Regions from separate parts of the Homo sapiens genome. Here region 1 is linked to region 2. A link means that fine-mapping ties the variant in region 2 to the expression of a gene that starts in the linked region. Tissue or cell type: whole blood. Region 2 holds a variant in brackets; the other region holds the start of a gene. All regions are shown on one strand. Distances are between the middles of the regions.

Region 1 (9,494 bases), 160 kb after region 2:
CCATCCATCCATCCATCCATCCACCCATCCATCTGTCCATCCATCCATCCATCTATCCATCCATCCATTCATCCATCCATCTGTCCATCCATTCATCTGTCTATCCATCCATCCATTCATCCATGCATCCATCCATCCGTTAGTCTGTCTGTCCTTTCACCTATCCTTCCAGCCATCCATACATCCATCTATCCATCTGTCCATTCACCTGTCCATCCATCCATCCATTCATCCATCCATGCATCCATCTGTCCATTCATCCATGCATCCATCCATCCATTCATCTGTCGGTCTGTCTGTCCATCCATCCATCCATCCATCCATCCATCCATCCATTCATCTGTCTATCCATCCATCCATTCATCCATGCATCCATCCATCCATTCGTCTGTCTGTCCATTCACCTATCCTTCCATCCATCCATGTATCTATCCATTCATCCATCTATCCATCTGTCCATCCATCCATCCGTCCGTCCATCCATCTGTCCATTCATCTGTCTATCCATCCATCCATCCATCCATCCATCTGTCCATCCATCCATCCATCTGTCCATCCGTCCATCCATCCATCCATCCGTCTGTCTGTCTGCCCATCCATCTGCCCCTCCATCTAACTGTTCATCCATCCACCTTTCCATCCATCCATCTATTCATCCATCCATCCATCCGTCCCTCCATCTGTCCATCTGTCTATCCATTCATTCATCCATCCAACCATCCATCCATCTGCCAATCTATCTGTCCATCTGTCCATCCATCTGTATGTCCATTCCCCCCACCATCAGTTCAACCAGTGTTTACTGAGCACCTACTTTGTGCCAGGCCCTGACAAGCAGCAAGAGGCAGCCTCTTCCCCCAGGGACACAGACGTAAAGGAGCAGCTACAACCTCATGTGATCAGCACCAGGATGGGGGTAGCAGAGGGGGATGGGGAGGACGTTCTAGGAGGGGTAGCCCTTGGTGGGCCCTGCAGGGTGCCTCAGGCCAGGATGCCCCCCGAAGCCTTGCTCAGCCACTGAGGCCAAGTCGGCTGAACTCTAATGGGCCTGGCCTCTCTGTCCATGCCTGACCCCAGAGTGCAGGCAAAAGGGCCAGGCCACTGTTGGAAAGGCCGTGGCTTCACGGCTGCAGAGCACCAACCCCAAGGCAGCCTGGTGGGCAGGGCGGGTGAGGCACCAGCCATATCCCTATTACAGAGTCAAGTAACGTCCCAAGACCCACAGAAGGGCACTGGCCCAAGACCACACAGTGGGCGAGGGGTCTGGGCATAGCAGGCAGGCAGGGTTGGGAATGGTGGGGGTGCTACTCACAGCTGGAGTCTGCTAGTCTCAGGGCAGTGCCCACTCCAGCTGCAGTAATGGGAATCAGCTGTGCCACCCTGCGGTATCCCTCCCCCGGCCTTGGGAGCCGGCTGTGCTGAGCCCAGCCAACCTTCCCATCACCCTCCTTCCTGCCACCAAGGGCTGCTCACAGAAGCTCCTGGGTCGGGACACTCACTAGGCCACGCCTGCCTTTTGGAAATCCATGGGCCCCCTGGCATCTGGGGGCTTCAAACACTGCCAGTTCTGATGCCTGGCCCCAGCCTGGGGGTTGGCATTCCTGCGTCTGTGTCAGGAGAGGACAGGGAGGTGCAGGCTTGCCCGAGCCACAGCCACCACCATGCTGAGTCCTGTCCAGGAGTTTCCATCTCTGGGCACTGCTACTGGCCCAGAGGAAGCTGGTTCCCAAGACACTGAGTGGGGCCGCTCTCCATCAGCCGATGAGTGGACAGGCGCCTCGGATGGCTTCCTGCCGAGTTAATGGGTCACCCATTATGTCTCCACAGATCTTCCCAGGACCCTGCAGGAAGGCAGGCCAGAGCAGCCCCAAGGAACAGCCCGGGGGAGGGAAGGCAGATGGCCACCTCAAAGCCAGCCCCGAGCCCTTCCCCTCTAGGCCTGAGTGTCAAGGGCAGACCCAGCCCATGGCTTTGGGGACCTGGTGGCACTGACTCCAGCAGGAGAACCCCCGGGCTGAGCCCTGGCAGTTAGAGGAGGCCTGGACTCAGATGGGGACAGAACACTGTCTCAGCCTGATGGCGGCTAGAGGAGGAGGGTAGGGCCCCTGGTCATGTGGGTCCTGGCTCCGTGGGCCTGCTTTCCACCTGACCTCAGCAGGCAGGTCTCTCGGGCCATTCGCACACCCAGCTGCCTGGGAGCCCCAAACTGGGACTGGTGGAGGGGCCCTGCAGAGGGGAAGACTAGGGTCCAAGAAGCCCATGAAGCCATGCGCCAGGGCCAGAGCTGGCCTGCCTGGTCTGGATGGTATGTCATCCTTGTGTTACAAGTGAGGAAACTGAGGCTCAGGGAGTAACACCACCGGTTCAAGGTCTTAAAGCCGAGAAGTGGCCCCTCTGGGTTCGGAAGGCAGGCTGGGCCCTGGGGCAGCCTCTATCCCCAGCCCCTCTTCCCCAGGACCCTACGGCCCCAAGAGGCTTCACTGGCAACTCGGTCAGCCCTCTCTAGCCCCCTCCCCAGCTCCCCTTTGTCCTGTCCAGGGCTGAGCACCATCCCACAGCCCACTTCCCTACCAGGGCTGTGTGGCCCAGTGGGCCCCTAGAGGGAGACCTGGGGTCTGGATGGGGAGGGAAGTGTTTCAGGCTGAAGCTGAGCCTGGGGAAGCGGGCGGGGGTGGCTAGGCGGGCCACCCCCTCAACAGTTTTCAGACCTCAAGAAGTCACCACGAAATTCCATTCTCCTGACAGCAAAGAAATTGATTCACTCTTGCCAAAGCCTGCGGCCCCCACAAGAATGCTGTAAAGCTTCCTCCCGCTGCTTCCAGACAGGCAGCAGCATCAGGTCCCCCACTCCTCCCATTCCTGGCTACAGAGAGACGCGGGAACCCCCCCTACCCAGTTCTATGCATGTGCCCCTGCCAGGCTGGGCCATCCACCTCTGTATGGTCACTCCCTTGGTACAATATCCCCCTTGCTTTCTCTACAATGGGCACATTGCTCCCACGACCTGCTGGGTCAAAGGCACCGCAGTCAGGGGTAGCTGGGGAGCAGGAGTTGCGGGGGTGGGGCGGCTCAGGGCAGGAAGCCCCATCCCCTGGCCTGGGAACTGTGGGGAGATGGACTCACAGCATCTTGTCAGGTGGGGTGCAGGGTGGCATGGCACCCACCATCGGTGCCACTGATGTAAAGTCCAGGTACAGAGCACAACCCGTGCACATATTTGGGGGCTTGGCCATGCTTGGCTGCAGGGGATTGAGGAGGGATTGGGCCTCAAGAAACGGGGCTGGGACTAAGTCACGAGGTGCGTGAATATCAGGCGGGACTTTAACTCAGCCAGTGGAGAGCTATGGAGGGTTTTGCTCTTTGTGTGGGTGTGTGAGTGGCTATGATCCTAGTTGTCCAGCTGCTGCGTGGAGAATAAGTAAAGCAGGTAGGATAGGAGTGGGTGGGATGGGGGTGGAGGCTGCCCAAGTGATTCAGGGAAGAGATGATGGGGATGGATGAGGCTCCGTCTCTGAAACAATTCAGATATGGGAGAGCCTGAAGTCAGCGGTGTGACTGAAGCACGTGGGGTCATGGACACCCCTCAGTCCGGAGGCTGGGGCTGGGCTGGGACTCAGCTGACTTTGTGGGGGCAGCCAACCCAGTCACTGGGTCCTTTTCTCCCCGGCTCACCCTCAAGCCTCTCCAGCTGCATGGAGGCTCCAGGGCTAGGCTCTGGCTGATCGGAAGGGGTTTATGGCAGGAGGTGACGCCATGGGAGACTTGTCACTTGGGCACAGCCAGCACCATCTGCTGGGGCATCTGCTTTCGGAGGTGGTGACTGCTAATTACCTGGGGCCAGGAAGAGGCCTGGGAACCCCCATCCCCCACACCACCCAGCGGGTACAGGGGCTAGGGGTGGGGCCCCTGGGGCCCTAAGAGCAAATGGGCTACAGCGTCCTTAGCGGGGGGAGAGGGTCTGACAGTGGGGCCAGACATTTATCCAGTGAATTTTTTCAGAGCACCTACTATGTCCCAAAACCTGTTCCAGGTCTGAATGACACCAGGTCGCTGCTGTCTTGCGGCTGACATTCAGGTAGAGGTAAGGAGAGGGGCTCCAAGGGCACTTAAAGAATTTAAAATGCCATCTCAGGCGTGAACATAACTCCGAGGGGGGCAGTTTAGCCACGGTGGTGGCGGTGGTGGTCGTGGTGGTCGCAGAGACCCTGCTTAGGAGGGCACGGGAAGACAGCGCAGCCACGGGCAGAGCCGCCTCCGTCCACGCTTCCGGAGGACGTGGCGGGCAGGGGGCTCACACCCTGCTCAGGCGACCCTTGGCCACTTCCGGGCCCCTCGCCCCTCACCCTCGGCTGCCGGCGCGCATTCCTGCCGCCCCCGCTCGTGCGAGGGGCGGGCCCGGGCCCGTGGGAAGGGCCGGGGATGGGGGCCGTGTGCCGGGGAGGCGGGGTGGGGAGGGCGCACAGCTGGGCCGCATCTGGCCCGAGCGCAAGGAGACCAAATGGGACAGAAGGCGGCCTTTCATCCGGCGAGGGAAGTGGCGGCCTTCGTTTCTCCTCGCCATGGGGCGCCTGAGGATTTCGGGGAGCCAACCCTCCCGACGGAGGGCCAGGATCGAGGAAATCAGCCAGGGAGGAAGGAGTGGAATTTGGTTCTGGTGCTTTCTCGTTAGAACCTCGTGTCCCCACCTGCGGCACAGGTGGCCAAGCTCTTGCTCTGTACAAATAACGGCTCCCCTGAACCGAGCGCTCGGGAAGACCCAGGCGCCACCCCAGTTTGCAAGGCCTGCCGCGTCCCAAGGGGAGGAAGCCGTGCTCAGGAGGGGAAGCGCACAGCGAGGAAGTAGGATGTCCCCCGCGGTGCGTCGGAGCCCAGAGCCCGGGTCTCAGCACCCTGCCCGCTGCGCCGAGGGCGCGCCCCTCCCGTGCCGGGACGCCCGGTGCATCCCCGGACGGCGCTGGCCAGGCTGGGTTTCCTCTTCAGGGACACCGGCGCGGGCCGGGCCCGTCCCCAAGCCCCTCGGCGGCCCGCAGGGGCTACCCGGGGCGGGGGGGGTGCGGGGCGTGCACGTGCGCGCCGGGGGCGGGGCCGCTGCGCCCTCTGGGCAGTTCCCAGCCCCCAGCCGCGGCCCCACGTGGGTCTGCGGGCGTGGAGCGGCGACCGGCGCGAGGCCCCGCCCCCGAGCCCGGGAGCCAATGAGCGCACGGGGGCGGGACCGGGGCGGGGAGGTTTAAGAGCGCGGGACACTGGTGCTGCGCTGCTGGACTGCGCCGCCGGAGCGACGGGCTTCGGGTCGGTGCAAGGCAGGCGCACGGGGAAGGGCGCGCCGCGCGGCCGCCACCCCACCATGCTCAAGCGCTGCGGCCGGCGCCTGCTGCTGGCGCTGGCGGGCGCGCTGCTCGCCTGCCTGCTGGTGCTCACCGCCGACCCGCCGCCGCCTCCACTGCCCGCCGAGCGCGGCCGGCGCGCGCTGCGCAGCCTGGCGGGCCCCGCGGGGGCTGCCCCGGCGCCCGGGCTGGGGGCGGCGGCGGCGGCGCCCGGGGCGCTGGTCCGCGACGTGCACAGTCTGTCCGAGTACTTCAGCCTGCTCACCCGCGCGCGCAGAGATGCGGGCCCGCCGCCCGGGGCTGCCCCCCGCCCCGCCGACGGCCACCCGCGCCCCCTGGCCGAGCCGCTCGCGCCCCGAGACGTCTTCATCGCTGTCAAGACCACCAAAAAGTTCCACCGCGCGCGCCTCGACCTGCTGCTGGAGACCTGGATCTCGCGCCACAAGGAGATGGTGAGCCCCCCGCGGCCTGGACTGGCGGGCGAGCGGGGCGGGGACCCACCATCTGGTCCAGCTGGTGGCAGTGTCCCATGGGAGTCAGGCTGCATCCCCATCCAGCCACTAGGGCCATCTGTGGGCGACGCCAGTGCACCCCGGTGCACCCAGTTTGCCTGCTGGGGCCACTCTCCCGTTACAGTTGTGTTACTGTCCCCGGGGCCCCGCCTCCTGTCCAGCTCCAGAGTCCTGGATGGCTGCAGGACCCTACACCAGTCTCCAGTGCTTGGGGTTGGTGCCCTGTGATACTTCTCACCCCGTAAACATTGGAGCGCATTCATAGGGCATTATGTCCTCAAACTTCCACAAGCAAATTCTGTTCGGACCCACCCTCAGCTCAGACCCCTTCCTGGGGAGAAAGGCTCTTCCTTTAGAGAAGTGAGGGGTTCTGACCTCTGGGCCCTTTCCTCATCACAGTGTTAAGGTACGGGGAGGGAGGGAAGTCATTGCTGGTTGGTGGGTCCTGGGGAGTACATCTCAAAGAACTCCAGGTTTTGGGGTCTGTGTGGGGACCCTCCCCGCACAGTGCAGTAGTCTCTGAGGCCTGCAACCTTGGGCACAGCCCACTTCAGTTGGGCATCAGCTTCTTACACACACATAATTAAGACACACCCCACTTTGAACATTTCCCTCGAGGCCACAGCAGGACGGTTGGGCTGGGGCGGGATGGGGACAGTGTGTGGGGCTTGCAGTCGGGGACTGGGGGGGTGTCTCTGGGCTGGGAGATGCAGAGGCATTTGCTGTGAGGGTGGGGGCTCAGGGAAGACCCTGCACGCCTTCCTCCCTGCTCAAACCCCGGAGACCCAGGGCCTTCTGACCTGGCGCTGTCCTGTTTTGGGGCACTGTGGGTGGGTGGGAGCAGGGCTTGGTGAGGTCATGAGGGCGACGGGGAGGGGCAGGGTCCTCCCTGGTCCTGGCGTGGGGAAGGGGCCCTGGGAACCCCATGGCAGCCTCCTGGGAACACAGCGTCCCATTCCCAGGGGCTCAGCGGGCTGGCGGGAGGGGGCGGCGGGGGCCGTGGGTTTTGTTTGGCGGCCGGGCCGTTAGGATTCCCAGCGCCGGGCGGCTCTCACGCCGGCCCCTTGGGCAAGGTAACAAAGCCCCTTTCTCCAGCGAGAAAGGCGTCGGGCCCCTTGTGTGCAGCTACGCGCTCCGTGGGAACCGCTGCTGGCGTGCTGGCCACTCAGGTTGCCTGGCGATGAGGGGACCAGCGGGCCCCCCCAGCATCTCTTACTGACAGTCCTTTTGGGGCACCATCCCTGAGCCTGGCCCCCCCACCCCCAGCACTCAAGCCTTACTGCTATGTGATCTTGGGCATCCTTCAGCCCCACTCTGGGCTACCACCAGCTCTGAGCACCTCTCATCTTGGAATTTGGGGCCTTTCTCCAACAGAGGGGATGTGGTCAGAGGGCTGGGCTGTGTGATCCTGAGCAAGACCTGGGGCCTCTCAGACCCTCACTCTGATCTCTGAAATGGGGGAACATGGTCCTTCCAGGAGCACGTTGTAAGAGACTGGCAAAGCCTGCAGGCATGGGGTGAACCCGGCGGGCACTCAGGGTCGAGGTGGGGGCCATCACTCCCTTGAGCCCTGAGGTCCCTACTGGAGGGTCACCCCACCAGGGGACAGGTTGAATCTGCCCTCAGCATCAGTTCACCAGCACACAGCAAGCAAAGACCCCCTTGTGGTGGGTGATGGGCAGGGGTCCTGGAAACCCACAGAAGAGGGCCCCCCTCTCCCAGCCCTGCACGGAATGACTCAGACATGGTCTGATGGGGGAGATAGAAAGATGTCAGGGCTGTGCGGGGGGAAAACCCCGAGAGGCTGTGTGAGGCAACAGTGGGCATCTGACCCACATGCTGGGGGAAGGGAGGGAGGAGGGAAGACTTCCTGGAGGAGGCGCCATTTGAGCTAGACTAAGAGTAAAAAAGTGCCCAGAAAGGGCACTCCATCCGGGCATGGTGATGACCACAGCATGGGGGTTGTGCAGGAAACTTCTAGCAACTGGAGTGGTGGCTGGGGGGAGGGTCGGTTGGTCAGCAGGGGCCGCGCTGAGATGGGCCTGGAGTCCAGGATGAAGAGCCTGGCCTTTGGCCCAGAGGTTCCCCGCCCCTCCCAGGAGCAGCCAGGCTGCCGCGCTGCCACCACAGCGGCCACAATTGCTGGGGAGAACTTGGCATCCTGTGTTTCTTTGAATCGCGGCTCCAGGAACAATGCTGCTTCCTGTGGGTGTCCCCCGGCCCCCGCCCCCGTCCACCCTCATCCACCCGGCTCTTCCTCCTGCAGCCCCGTCTTCGTCTGGAAAGTTAGGTGGCACTGGGGGGTCTGGGTCCCTAGAAGGCAGGGACTGGGCTGGTCTAGCACCGCCTCGGCCCCAGGGTATGACCTCAGGCTGGTGCCTGCACCTCTCTGGGCCTCAGTTTCCCCACTTGGGCCTCAGCTGGTAATGGCACCCACCTCCGAGGGCTGTCAGGGAGAGGAAGGGAGAGAATCTGTCTTTGCACTTTGTTCTCTGCCCAGGGGAGCTCTGTTATGCCCATTTTACTGAAGACGAGACTGAGGCTCTGAGCGGCAGGTGAGGCCTATAGCCCAGCAGCGCCTTTTTCCTCCCCTCCTGGTGGCTCAGGTGTCGGGAGACAGTTCGACCGGCACCCCCGCACCCCATAGCCCCGCCTTCTCAGATGCTGTTCTAGAGGCCTCCCTGCTCCCTGAGCTGAACAAAGGTGACTTTAATCTCCGTAGCCTTGGGCTGGGTTTTTAGGGCACCACCAAATCTCGGGAGAACAGGCCTCCCTTGATCTCATTAAGAAAGCATTTTCCTTTTAACCCAGCGGCGCAGTGGAGCGTCTGCAGGGGCTGGCCCTCCGCCTCCCACGGCATTCCTGGGCTGAGATTCTGGGGAGGCCAAGGGGCTGGGTGCGAGTCTGTGCGTGTGGCTGCCCTGGGGTGTCTATGGGTGCTGCAGGAGGGGTGCATGCATGGAGAGGCGGAGACCCAGCCTGCCACCCCCTTAGCTCTGGGCCTCACCCTAGTGAGCATGTGCCCAGGGCTGGGTCAGGCTGGATAAGGATCTGAGACTACCAAGGTGTTCCAGGGCCTCTGCGGGACCTGTGTGTACAGGGAAGGAAACTGAGGCTGGGTGGGCATCAGGGGGTTGTCCCTTGGTCAGAGCATTGCCCGTACACCCTGGGTTTTGCACTCAGCCATGCCAGGGTGCGCCGGGCGGCACGCGCTGGGCGGGCCGGGCAGAGGAAGGAACATTCCTCCCCGTGTGCCGGCAGGCCCAGGCGGGCGCCGGCGACTCCTGGCCCCGCCCTGGCGGCCCCCTCCTCTTCCGCAGAGCGCTCCTGGCAGGGGGCGGCCGCGTGCTGGCACAGGTGGGCTGTGGCCTTGGGCAAGCCTGGGTTTCCTTGCCTGAGCAGTGGGAGGGGTGCTGGGCTGCATGGGTACTGGGGGCCCCTGACCTGGGGGCTGGGGACACCTGAGGTTTCCTGCCACAACCCTGCTGACCGTTGGCAACTTTGCAGAACTTCAGGGCTGCTTTGGCTCAGAGTGGGTAGCTTGTCCTGCAGGTCACCCAGGACAGGGGTGCTGGCCCAAAGGGCAGCTGTGGGGTGGCTGCAGTGCTGGTGGCTGCACCCTACGCGCGGGACCTCATGCCCAGCCTGGCCCGGTTAA
Region 2 (11,014 bases):
AAGCTACAGTGAGGTGCGACGGCACCACTGTACTCCAGCCTGGGTGACAGAGTGAGACCCTGTTAAAAAATAATAATAGGCCAGGCGCAGTGGCTCACGCCTGTAATCCCAGCACTTCGGGAGGCCAAGGCGGGCGGATCACGAGGTCAGGAGAGTGAGACCATCCTGACTAACAGGATGAAACCCGTCTCTACTAAAAATACAAAAAATTAGCCGGGTGTGGTGGCAGGCGCCTGTAGTCCCAGCTACTCGGGAGGCTGAGGCAGGAGAATTGCTTGAACCCGGGAGGTGGAGCTTGCAGTGATCCGAGATAGCACCACTGCACTCCAGCCTGGGCGACAGAGTGAGACTCCATCTCAAAAAATAAATAAATAAATAAATAAAGATAATAATAAAAACAAAAAATCGAGTAAGTTTTTGTTGTTGTTGTTGGTTTTTTTTTTTTTTTTTTTTTGAGATGGATTTTTGCTCGTTGCCCAGGCTGGAGTGAAATGGTGCAATCTCCGCTCACTACGCCCTCTGCCTCCAGGGTACAAGTGATTCTCCCGCCTCAGCCTCCTGAGTAGCTGAGATTACAGGCATGTGCCACCATGCCTGGCTAATTTTTGTATTTTTAGTAGAGATGGGGTTTCACCATGTTGTTCAGGCTGGTCTCGAACTCCTGACCTCATGTAATGCATCCGCCCACCTTGGCCTCCCAAAGTGCTGGGATTACAGGTGTGAGCCACCATGCCCGGCCATAATTTCCTTCTTCTAATAAGGACATCAATCACTGATTTAGGGTCCACTCTCGTCCACTTTGACTTCATCTTGATTACATCTGGGAAGACTGCTTCCAAACACAGTAGCCCCCCCGACCCCCAGTTTCACATTGCACTGTTTCAGTTACTTATGGTCAATTAGGTTGGAAAATATTACATAATGAAGAAAATTTGACAGAGAGAGACACAGACACACCACCAGACACCACATCCACATAACTTTTATGACAATATATTGTTATAATTGTTCTATTAGTTATTGCTGTTAATCTCTTACTGTGCCCTATTGTAAGCATGCATATGTAGAAAAAACATACTCCCAGGCGTATTGGCTCACACCTGTAATCCCAGCACTTTGGGAGGCCGAGGCAGGCGGATCACAAGGTCAGGAGATCGAGACCATCCTGGCTAATACGGTGAAACCTCGTCTCTACTAAAAAAATACAAAAAAAATCAGCCAGGCGTGGTGGCGGGCACCTGTATTCCCAGCTACTTGGGAGGCTGAGGCAAGAGAATGGCGTGAACCCGGGAGGTGGAGCTTGCAGTGAGCCGAGATCGTGCCACTGCACTCCAGCCTAGGCGACAGAGCAACACTCCGTCTAAATAAAAAAAAAAAAAATTGTCATCCCTTATTGTACAGATGCGGAAACTGAGGTGGAGGCATTAAGTGACCTGCCCAAAGATACACCACTGACAGCATGATGAGGAGTAGTCAAACCTGGTACTAGGCATGGGAAGACTCTGCTTCTTTTTCGCTCTTTTAAACACCGTTAGGATGGGATGGGTGTGGTGGCTCATGCCTATAGTCCCGGCACTTTGGGAAGCTGAGGGAGGAAGACTGCTTGAGGCCAGGAGTTTGAGACCAGCCTGGGCAACACAGTGAGATGCTATCTACAAATAAAGAAATTAGCTGGGCACGGTGGCACATACCTTCAGTCCCAAGTACTTGGCAATGTACTTAATGTCACTGAACTGTACACTAAATTGCATATTAAAATGGCTAGGCCCTGCGCGGTGGTTCACGCTTGTAATCCTGGCACTTTGGGAGGCTGAGGTGGGAGGATTCTCTTGAGGCTGGAAGGTCCCGATTGCAGCGGCGCTGTGATTATGCCACCGCACTCTAGCCTGGGCAACAGAGCGAGACCCTATCTCTGAAAACAAACAAAACAAAAAAACTATAGGATGAAATATACATAAAATTTACCTTTTTGGCATTTTATTTTATTTTTTCGAAGACAGGGTCTCGCTATGTTGCCCTGACTGGTCTTGAACTCTTGGGCTCAAGTGATCCTCCTGTCTTGGCCTCCCAAAGTACTGGGAAGAGAGGTGTGAGCCACCGCGCAGGGCCTAGCCATTTTAATATGAAGTTTAGTATACAGTTCAGTGGCATCAAGTACATTCACCATGTTGTACCATCACCACCGTCATCTCCAAAACGTTCTCATCCTCCCAAATTGAAGGTCCGTCCCCGATAAACACTCCCCACTCTCCACCCCAGCCTCTGGGTACCACCTGTTTTATTTATTTATTTAATTTTCGTAGAGATGAGGGCTGGCGTGCGGGGGGTGGTGGTGCTATGTTGGCAAGGCTGGTCTCCAACTCCTAAGCTCAAGCGATCTTCCCACCTCAGCCTCCCAAAGTGCTGGGATAACAGGCGTGATCCACTGGGTTGTTTTCTAGGATGATTAAGACATCCCCCAACCAGTGGTTGTCCTCCACTCCGGCAAAAAACAAGATAGAAGCCACATGCACCCAATGCCCGTCCCGTGAGCACCCGCGCAGAGCGAACCGCTCCGGTCCCTCCGGAGTCAGCCTCGAGCTCCACGCGGCGAGGACCCGCCCCCGCCCCCACGTGACCCGCGCTGTCCCGCGCTGAAGGCGGCGGCCTCGGATGGACTGAACCACTGTGAAAGCCCGAATGGGGGGAAACAGGCAGTGACGGCCGCTAGGGAAGGACTGGGGGTAAGCGATTAAAGAAACTTCCATACATTTTTGTATCGCGCCAGGCAGTCGTCCTTCTAGTCGTGTGGGCCCTCTCTGGCTCGCCCCGAATTCCTTTTCTATTTTGAAGTAGTCTGTCCTTTTGCTCAGTCAGTAGGCGAGTCCAAGTGACAGACACGGACAGGGGGGACTTTAGTAACGTAAACTAAACGGTTTCCCTAGCGAAAGGCTCAGACGCCCTGAGCAATCGCCTGTTGAGTCTCCACTCTTCCAGGGTATTAACTGTTGAGTTAGAGGACATTTTCCTAGCATTCCGGGTACTAAAATCATTTCTTGTCCCCGCCTTCAGCTCCACAAATAGTTCAGTCCCGCCCCGCAGCGTCCGACGGGAAAGGAAAGG[G/A]GGAGGACGCCATGTTGGACGGAACCATCTGCTGCCACACATGGGGTGGTCAATGCTCCCATGAGTTTACTGATGCACAGAAACAACCTTGCTGAATGGAATTAAGCACTTTCTTGTCACAAATATATCAGTTTGATGATTTTCGGGCGCGGTCTTGTGGATGCGAGTCCTCTCAGGGTCGTTCGTGAGGCCCCAGGGCGTGGGTGCGCCCCCCGCCCCGCGGCCTTGGTGCGGCCTCCCCGTCGCACGCACATGGCTGGGCTGTAGCCGTCGCGGCGCGCGGTGCGGCCTGGGAGAGTCGGAAGCGCGGCGGCCGCGGAGCCCTGCGAGTAGGCAGCGTTGGGCCCATGCAGGACGCGGAGAACGTGGCGGTGCCCGAGGCGGCCGAGGAGCGCGCCGAGCCCGGCCAGCAGCAGCCGGCCGCCGAGCCGCCGCCAGCCGAGGGGCTGCTGCGGCCCGCGGGGCCCGGCGCTCCGGAGGCCGCGGGGACCGAGGCCTCCAGTGAGGAGGTGGGGATCGCGGAGGCCGGGCCGGAGTCCGAGGTGAGGACCGAGCCGGCGGCCGAGGCAGAGGCGGCCTCCGGCCCGTCCGAGTCGCCCTCGCCGCCGGCCGCCGAGGAGCTGCCCGGGTCGCATGCTGAGCCCCCTGTCCCGGCACAGGGCGAGGCCCCAGGAGAGCAGGCTCGGGACGAGCGCTCCGACAGCCGGGCCCAGGCGGTGTCCGAGGACGCGGGAGGAAACGAGGGCAGAGCGGCCGAGGCCGAACCCCGGGCGCTGGAGAACGGCGACGCGGACGAGCCCTCCTTCAGCGACCCCGAGGACTTCGTGGACGACGTGAGCGAGGAAGGTGAGGGCGCCCGGGGCGGGGCTGGCGAGCGGCGCGGGAGCGTGGCTGGGGTTCCCGAGGTGGGAGATATCGTCGGGCTGTGCCACCGGTTCGTGCAGAAGTTCCAGCGAGGGTGTCCGTGTGTTCCTGAGAAGCCACCGAGGGAGGGGTTCCCGAGTGCCCTGGAAGTGTTCTGAGAGCCCAGCGCCTCCCCTTTTCTTTCCTGAAAAAGGGGACAGGGTGGAGCTCACTTCGGGAGCCAGGCATTTGCATGACAACCAGAAATCTGAGAGGGTGGGAGAGGGCACATGGGGTACTCCGTTATGGCTGGGTGTGCTGTGAGTGTAGCAGCTGGGGGTACGGCAAAAACCGAAGACCCGGTGGCAGGTTTGCGGGTCTACGTGTCCCCAGAGCTGACCAGTCAGACCTCCCAAGGTCTGGATCGGAGGAACAGCTTGTGGCAGAGCCGGTGATTTTGTCCTCCTGCCCCTCAGAATTGTCCATCTCCAGAGACTTCCTTAGTGGGACAGGCACCCTGTGAAATTCCAGTTTGATTTTTCTTTATCTCTTGCGCTAAATCTATAAAGAGAGTTATTTTTCCAGGTTTTAATATTGCCGATAACAGCCAGCTTTGCCTTCATCTCAACCTTGATTGGATTTACAGGCATATTTTTGCTTCCTGTCTCAGAGATTTTTTCCTGAAGCTACTTCTGATGAGAGCTGGTCTCATTTGTTTTTCTTTTGTTTTTTAGCTCTCTTAAGCCTTTAAGTTGGGAACACATCAGCCTCTGCAGATTGGCTAAGTTGATACTAGAGTGAGAAAAATAAAAATACCCTTGCTGATGTAGCCAGCGATACACCAGGACAATTTCGGGAATAACATGGAGTTGCCAATTTATGATTTAAACGTATTTTTAAAAGGCTATCAGAGGGCCGGGCTGGGTGGCTCACGCCTGTAATCCCAGCACTTTGGGAGGCCGAGACGGGTGGATCACGAGGTCACCATCCTGGCTAACACGGTGAAACCCCGTCTCTACTAAAAATAAAAAAAAATTAGCCGGGCGTGGTGGCGGGCACCTGGATTTCCCAGCTACTCTGGAGGCTGAGGCAGGAGAATGGTGTGAACCTGGGAGGCGGAGCTTGCAGTGAGCCGAGATCCTGCCACTGCACTCCATCCTGGGCGACAGAGCAAGACTCCGTCTCAAAAAAAAAAAAAAAAGAAAAAGAAAAAAAGGTTATCAGAAATACAAGTCAGCCAGGTGTGCTGGTGCACACCTGTAGTCTCAGGTACTTGGGAGGCTGAGGCACGAGAATCACTTTAACCCAGGAGGTGGAGGTTGCAGTGAGCCTAGATCCCACCACTGCCTGGGCGACAGAGTGAGACCCTGTCTCAAAAAGTGAAAAATTAAAAAATAAAAACGCTGTCAGTTACTGTGACCATTACTATATTACACTTTTTTTTTTCATAAAAGACATTTTAGCATGAAAAGCAGGAAGGACACCACAAACTAAAGACTTTGGGAACATCTAGTCTACGCCCCTCAGTCCTGAGGAAACTTGTCCCTGAAGGTGGAGTAGGCTGCTGAGAATTCCCAGTGGGTCTATACTGCTTGGCCCACCAGACTCTCCTGCTCAGAACAGTGTTCTTTCTAACGCTTCAATTGTTATTATGGTTTAAAAATCAAAACTTTTGGTTTAATGATTATTTTGAGCCCTTGGATATTCTGCTACTTTTTTAAAAAGCATTATTTGAGCCCATCGAATTCACAGATTTCTAATACGTAGATTACTTCTGGAATTGGGAAGAGTCAGAGGATGCTAATATGACGACAGGGTTGGCCAGGCTGGGTGACGGCTGTGGGTCCTCAGCGGGCCCACGTGGCCCTGAAGGTGCAGTGTTGGCCAGAGTGACAGGTGAGGCATCTGGTCCTGAGGACTAAGGCTCAGGAAGCCGACTTTGTCATGGCCCTCCTGGTTGTGGTAACGCAGGTTTTGTGCTTTATGAGAAGAGCTGCCCTTCAGGGTCATTGTGCAAGACCGTAGGTGACTGTATCAGTTCTTTCCAGAAGGGCCAAGTCTTCCAAGGAGCAGGCCAGAGGTGGCCTGGAGTCCCTGTCTTGCTTTATTACTTTTTTGGTACAGATTAGCTTCTCAAACTGTAATCATCCTTTCAGTTTAATGTTTCAGCTGATCCAGGATTTTAACTCTAAATGTCTTTTTTGGCTCATTAACTATTCTTTCTCTTTCTATTTGCTATTTAGTGTTGAGAATTGTTCTCTTCTGTTTTTCCTGGAGACCGCTTGGGAATCCATGAGCCACGTGTAACCGATGCTTGGGCTGAGAGTGATCAAGGCGTTGTGTCTTCATGGTGTAGTTACTTCATTTATTTCCTTCCTACGTGTGGGCAGTTTCTCCTAGACTAGACGCTTTGAGCTTGTGGGAAGGAGTACCCAATTTGTGTAAAAGTTGAGCTTTTTATTGCAGCCTTATAAATTCAGATCAGGCTTGTCAGGCTATTTAATTGTATGGTAAGTGCTTTAGAAGTTACCCTAGGATTTGACTAGTTTCCATAGCAGGGTGTCCGGCACTGCAGTGACTGGCAACTGCCTTTTTCCCTTTTTTTTTCTCTTGTTCGTCTCAATTTTAGCATCGTTGAAAATAAAACGGCGATTATTTTTTAAGGCAGTATTTTCAATATTTCCTTTTTTTTTTTGAGACAGAGTCTCATTCTCTTGCTCAGACTGGAGTGCAATGGCTCACCGCAGCCTCTGCCTCCCCGCTTCAAGCGATTTTCCTGCCTCAGCCTCCCAAGTAGCTGGGATTATAAGCATGTGCCACCATGCCTGGCTACTTTTTGTATTTTTAATACAGATGGGGTTTTGCCTTGTTGGCCAGGCTGGTCTCGAACTCCTGGCCTCATGTGATTTGCCTTCCTTGGCTTCCAAAAATGCTGGGATTACAGGCGTGAGCCACCATGCTGGGTCAGTTTTCAATATTTCCGAAAGTGTTTTTTTGAGACGGAGTCTTGCTCTGTCGCTGGAGTGAGCCACCATGCCCAGCCAACTTTTGAGAATAAATACAGTAAAGAATATTTTCGGACATCTGCATATTTAGTATGTTGGAATTATCATTATTATTATTATTTGAGATGGAGTCTCACTCTGTCTCCCAGGCTGGAGTGCAGTGGCATGATCTTGGCTCACTGCAACCTCCATCTCCTGGGTTCAAGCGATTCTCCTGCCCCAGCCTCTCCAGTAGCTGGAATTACAGGCACCCACCACCATGCTTGGATCATTTTTCTCGTATTTTTATTAGGGACAGGTTTCACCATGTTGGCCAGGCTGGTCTTGAACTCCTGGCCTCAGGTAATCTGCCTGCCTCGGCCTCCCAAAATGCTGGGATTACAGGCGTGAGCCACTGAGCCTGGCCGTGTTCTAAATTCTGACACGTGATGCTTTCCAGCAGCCCTGCGAGGCATTTCATCACATCAAGAACAGCTTCACCTACCACTAAGAAAAAAATACTGTTATTTAATCTCAGTGGGGGTGGCAGCTCCCACCTGTAGTCCCTGCTACTTGGGAGGCTGAGGCAGGAGGATTGCTAGAGCCCAGGAGTTCCAGGCTAGCCTGGGCAGCATAACAAGACCCTGTCTCTTTACAAAGAAAAAAAAAAGTTGTTTCAGGAGCTTGTATATTCTCCAGTCTCCTAGTTTAAGTGCCGGTCTCTGCCCTGATAGTGTTTTTCAAAAAGGCTCTTTGTGATATAATTAAGAAATGTGTATTTGGGCTCTGCCTGGCTCTTGGCACTCAGCGTCTAAACCCTTGTAATTTCCAAAGTGGTAAGTGTCTTTTTGTAGACGAGGACTTGATTGATGGCTGGGGCTCCTTGCCAGGGAACCAACCACGTGATTAGAGGGTGGGACCTTTTAGGTCTCCCCCTGCCACCCAGAAGGAAGAGGGCTGAAAGTTGAGTTGATCACCGGTGCTCAGTGATGTCATTAATCACGCCTCTATAATGAGATCTTCATAGAAACCCAAAAGGACCAGGTTCAGGGGCTCCATGCAGCGGAACAGGTGGAGGCTTCTGCAGGGTGGTGGCCTGGAGAGCACAGGGAGGCTCTGCGCTTCTCCTCCATCTGCCTTTTCGTCTATATCCTCTGTAACGTCCGTTATAATAAGCTGGCAAACCTAGCTCTCTGAATTCTGTAAGCTGCTGCAGTAAATTAATGGAACCCAAGAAGCGAGGGATAGTGGGAGCCCTGCTTTGTAGCCTGTCGGTCAGAACCGGAGGTGACAGCCCACTACTTGCGACTGCCATCTGAAATGGGGGCCAGTCTTTGGGGCTGAGCCTTCAGCCTGTGGGATCTGATGCTAATTCCTGGTAGATAGTGTCTGAATTGGATTAAGTTAGAGGACACCCAGCTGGTGGCCCCTGGAGAACTGCTTGATGCGACACCCACGTCCGGTGTCAGGCGTTGTGTTGAGTGTTACGTGAGTAGGAAAGACACTGTCACATCCCTGTCTCCTGCAGTTCAGTTGTTTATCCTTAGAGCTTTTTAACCTAAGGAATATTGGGTAAAGATTGTTCTGAACGAAGGTGCGTGGTGGTGGGCTCTGCAGCGGAGAGAGGTGGGGAAGCTCACCCCAGACGCGCTTCCTCTTTGGGTTTTTTCCCCATCCCCTGTGAATGGCCATCCAGTTCACGGCCTGAAAACATGAAAATCACTGGGAACAGGAGGTGGGAGAAGAGTTACTACTTTCATCCCAGTTCACTCGAGAGAGGGTTCCTCCTTGAATAATTTCTGGTAATTTGTATTCACAGCACAAATGTGCTGTGAATATATTGAGCATTTAAATATTTACTTGTTTGCTAAAATCTTCTGTAAAAAGTCAGTTTTCATTGACATTGGGATGGGATTCTGCCTGCCTAGATGTTGCAACAAACCTTTCAAAATCTAGGCATCTCTGGAAGATCTAATAGTGGATATTCTTGAGATGGTCTTCTTCATTTGCATTGTGCATTGTTAAAAGCTTTTCACTGTTATTCTCCTGTAGTCTTTGGTTATTACCAGAACTTAATTGACCTGTCTTGACTGTTTACATTTCCATCAAAGGGAGAGAGGAGAGTTCCAGTCCCCCCAGCTGTCATGTTTAAAATCTGAAACAAGCTAGGGTTAGGATTTCTTTTGCTCACAGTGAAAGCATTTAGACAATTCATTGTCTCTTCTTGAAGACTTGTTTAGTGTGCTCAGTTAATGTATTAATGTTTTTCTTGGTAAAAATGATCATTTGAAAAATCTCTCTTGTTCAGAATTACTGGGAGATGTACTCAAAGATCGGCCCCAGGAAGCAGATGGAATCGATTCGGTGATTGTAGTGGACAATGTCCCTCAGGTGGGACCCGACCGACTTGAGAAACTCAAAAATGTCATCCACAAGATCTTTTCCAAGTTTGGGAAAATCACAAATGATTTTTATCCTGAAGAGGATGGGAAGACAAAAGGGTGAGTGTTCTCCTGTTGGAGAAGTATCATCTGTGTCTGGCACGTCATGATGAGGGAGTGTTGCAGGAGATCCTTACTAACACAGCTCCTGCCTTGCCCAGGCACGTGGGCCGTTCACTTCTTCAGGCCGCCCTCAGCTGGAAGCTATCCAGAGCAGTGAATGAGAAGATGATAAAGTTTGTTTTTTTAAGTTAAGGTTTTAAAGTTTTTAAAATTATCTAGAATAGGCCAGCATGGTGGCTTATGCATAAACTCCCAACACTCTTGAAGCCTGAGGCCAGGAGTTGGAGGCTGCAGTGAGCTATGATAACGTAGCTGTACTCCAGTCTGGGTGACAGAGCAAGACTCTGTCTCTAAAATAAATAAATAAAGTAAAAACTAACTAGAATAGTTTTAGTTTCTAGAATTATCAAATACAGGTAATGCTGCTGCATTTTCTGTGTTGGGCAGTCAGTTGAAGGATGGCCTCTTGACCCTCAGTTACTCGTGTTATAATGAAACATTCTCTGAGGTTCTTTCTTTCTTTCTTTTTTTTGAGTCGGAGTCTCGCTCTGTCGCCCAGGCTGGAGTGCAGTGTCGCAATCTCGGCTCACTGAAAGCTCCGCCTCCCAGGTTCACACTATTCTCCCGCCTCAGCCTCCCTAGTAGCTGGGACTACTGGCGCCCGCTACCACGCCCGGCTAATTTTTTGTATTTTTAGTAGAGACGGGGTTTCACCATGTTAGCCAGAATGGTCTCGATCTCCTGACCTTGTGATCCACCCGCCTCGGCCTCCCAAAGTGCTGGGATTACAGGCCTGAGCCACCGCGCCCGGCCTCTCTGAGCTTCTTTCTAATCTTGCCTGTAATACACAATATTAGACTACTTTTAAGTTTTTTTTGTTTGTTTGTTTGTTTGAGACAGTCTCACTCTTGCCCAGGCTGGAGTGCAGTGGTGTGATCTCAGCTCACTGCAACCTCCGCCTCCCGGGTTCAAGCAATTCTCCTGCCCCACCCTCCCAAGTAGCCGGGATTACAGGCGCACACTACCACGCCTGGCTTGCTTGCTTGCTTATTTATTTATTTATTTATTTATTGAGACAGAGTCTTGCTCTGTCACCCAGGCTGGAGTGCAGTGGCACGATCTTGGCTCACTGCAACCTCCGCCTCCCAGGCTCAAGCAATTCTCCTGCCTTAGCCTCCTGAGTAGCTGGGATTATAAGCATGTGCCACCATGCCCGGCTAATTTTTGTATATTTAGCAGAGACAGGGTTTCACCATGTTGGCCGGGCTGGTCTCGAACTCCTGACCTCAAGTGATCTGCCCACCTTGGCCTCCCAAAGTGCTGGGATTACAGGTGTGAACCATTGCGCCCAGCCAAGATTTTTTTTTAAACAGCTTTATTGAGATAATTGATATACAGTAAATCTGCATAGTTTTAAAGCGTACAATTTAATACATTTTGATGTGTACATATCACGAAACCATCGCCACAGTCAAAATAATGGACGTTTTGATTAACTTTTCTATAATTATGATAATGAAACTAGAGACTTCGGATCTTCTGGTTAGGATTTCCCTGTCACTTAGGAGCTCCCTGGCTGTG

What was found. PIP is the estimated chance that this variant, and not a neighbour inherited with it, causes the effect.
Region 1: it holds the start of LFNG, and the variant in region 2 is fine-mapped to the expression of LFNG in whole blood (INTERVAL, PIP 0.92).

What each region holds. Positions count from the first base shown.
Region 1 is chr7:2,514,518-2,524,011 of GRCh38, forward strand. It overlaps LFNG (LFNG O-fucosylpeptide 3-beta-N-acetylglucosaminyltransferase), which reads left to right and starts at 5,257. Exons shown (of 8, transcript NM_001040167.2): 1 at 5,257-5,776. The coding sequence starts at 5,345. RefSeq lists silencers at 4,783-5,312, 5,323-5,432 and enhancers at 7,364-7,493, 7,534-7,593, 8,460-8,972.
Region 2 is chr7:2,351,473-2,362,486 of GRCh38, forward strand. It overlaps EIF3B (eukaryotic translation initiation factor 3 subunit B), which reads left to right and starts at 3,355. Exons shown (of 19, transcript NM_001037283.2): 1 at 3,355-3,948; 2 at 9,238-9,430. The coding sequence starts at 3,450. It also overlaps a transcript of SNX8 not described here. RefSeq lists enhancers at 2,146-2,701, 2,372-2,441 and silencers at 3,242-3,381, 3,562-3,651, 3,702-3,811. The variant G/A (reference allele first, on the strand shown) is at 3,103.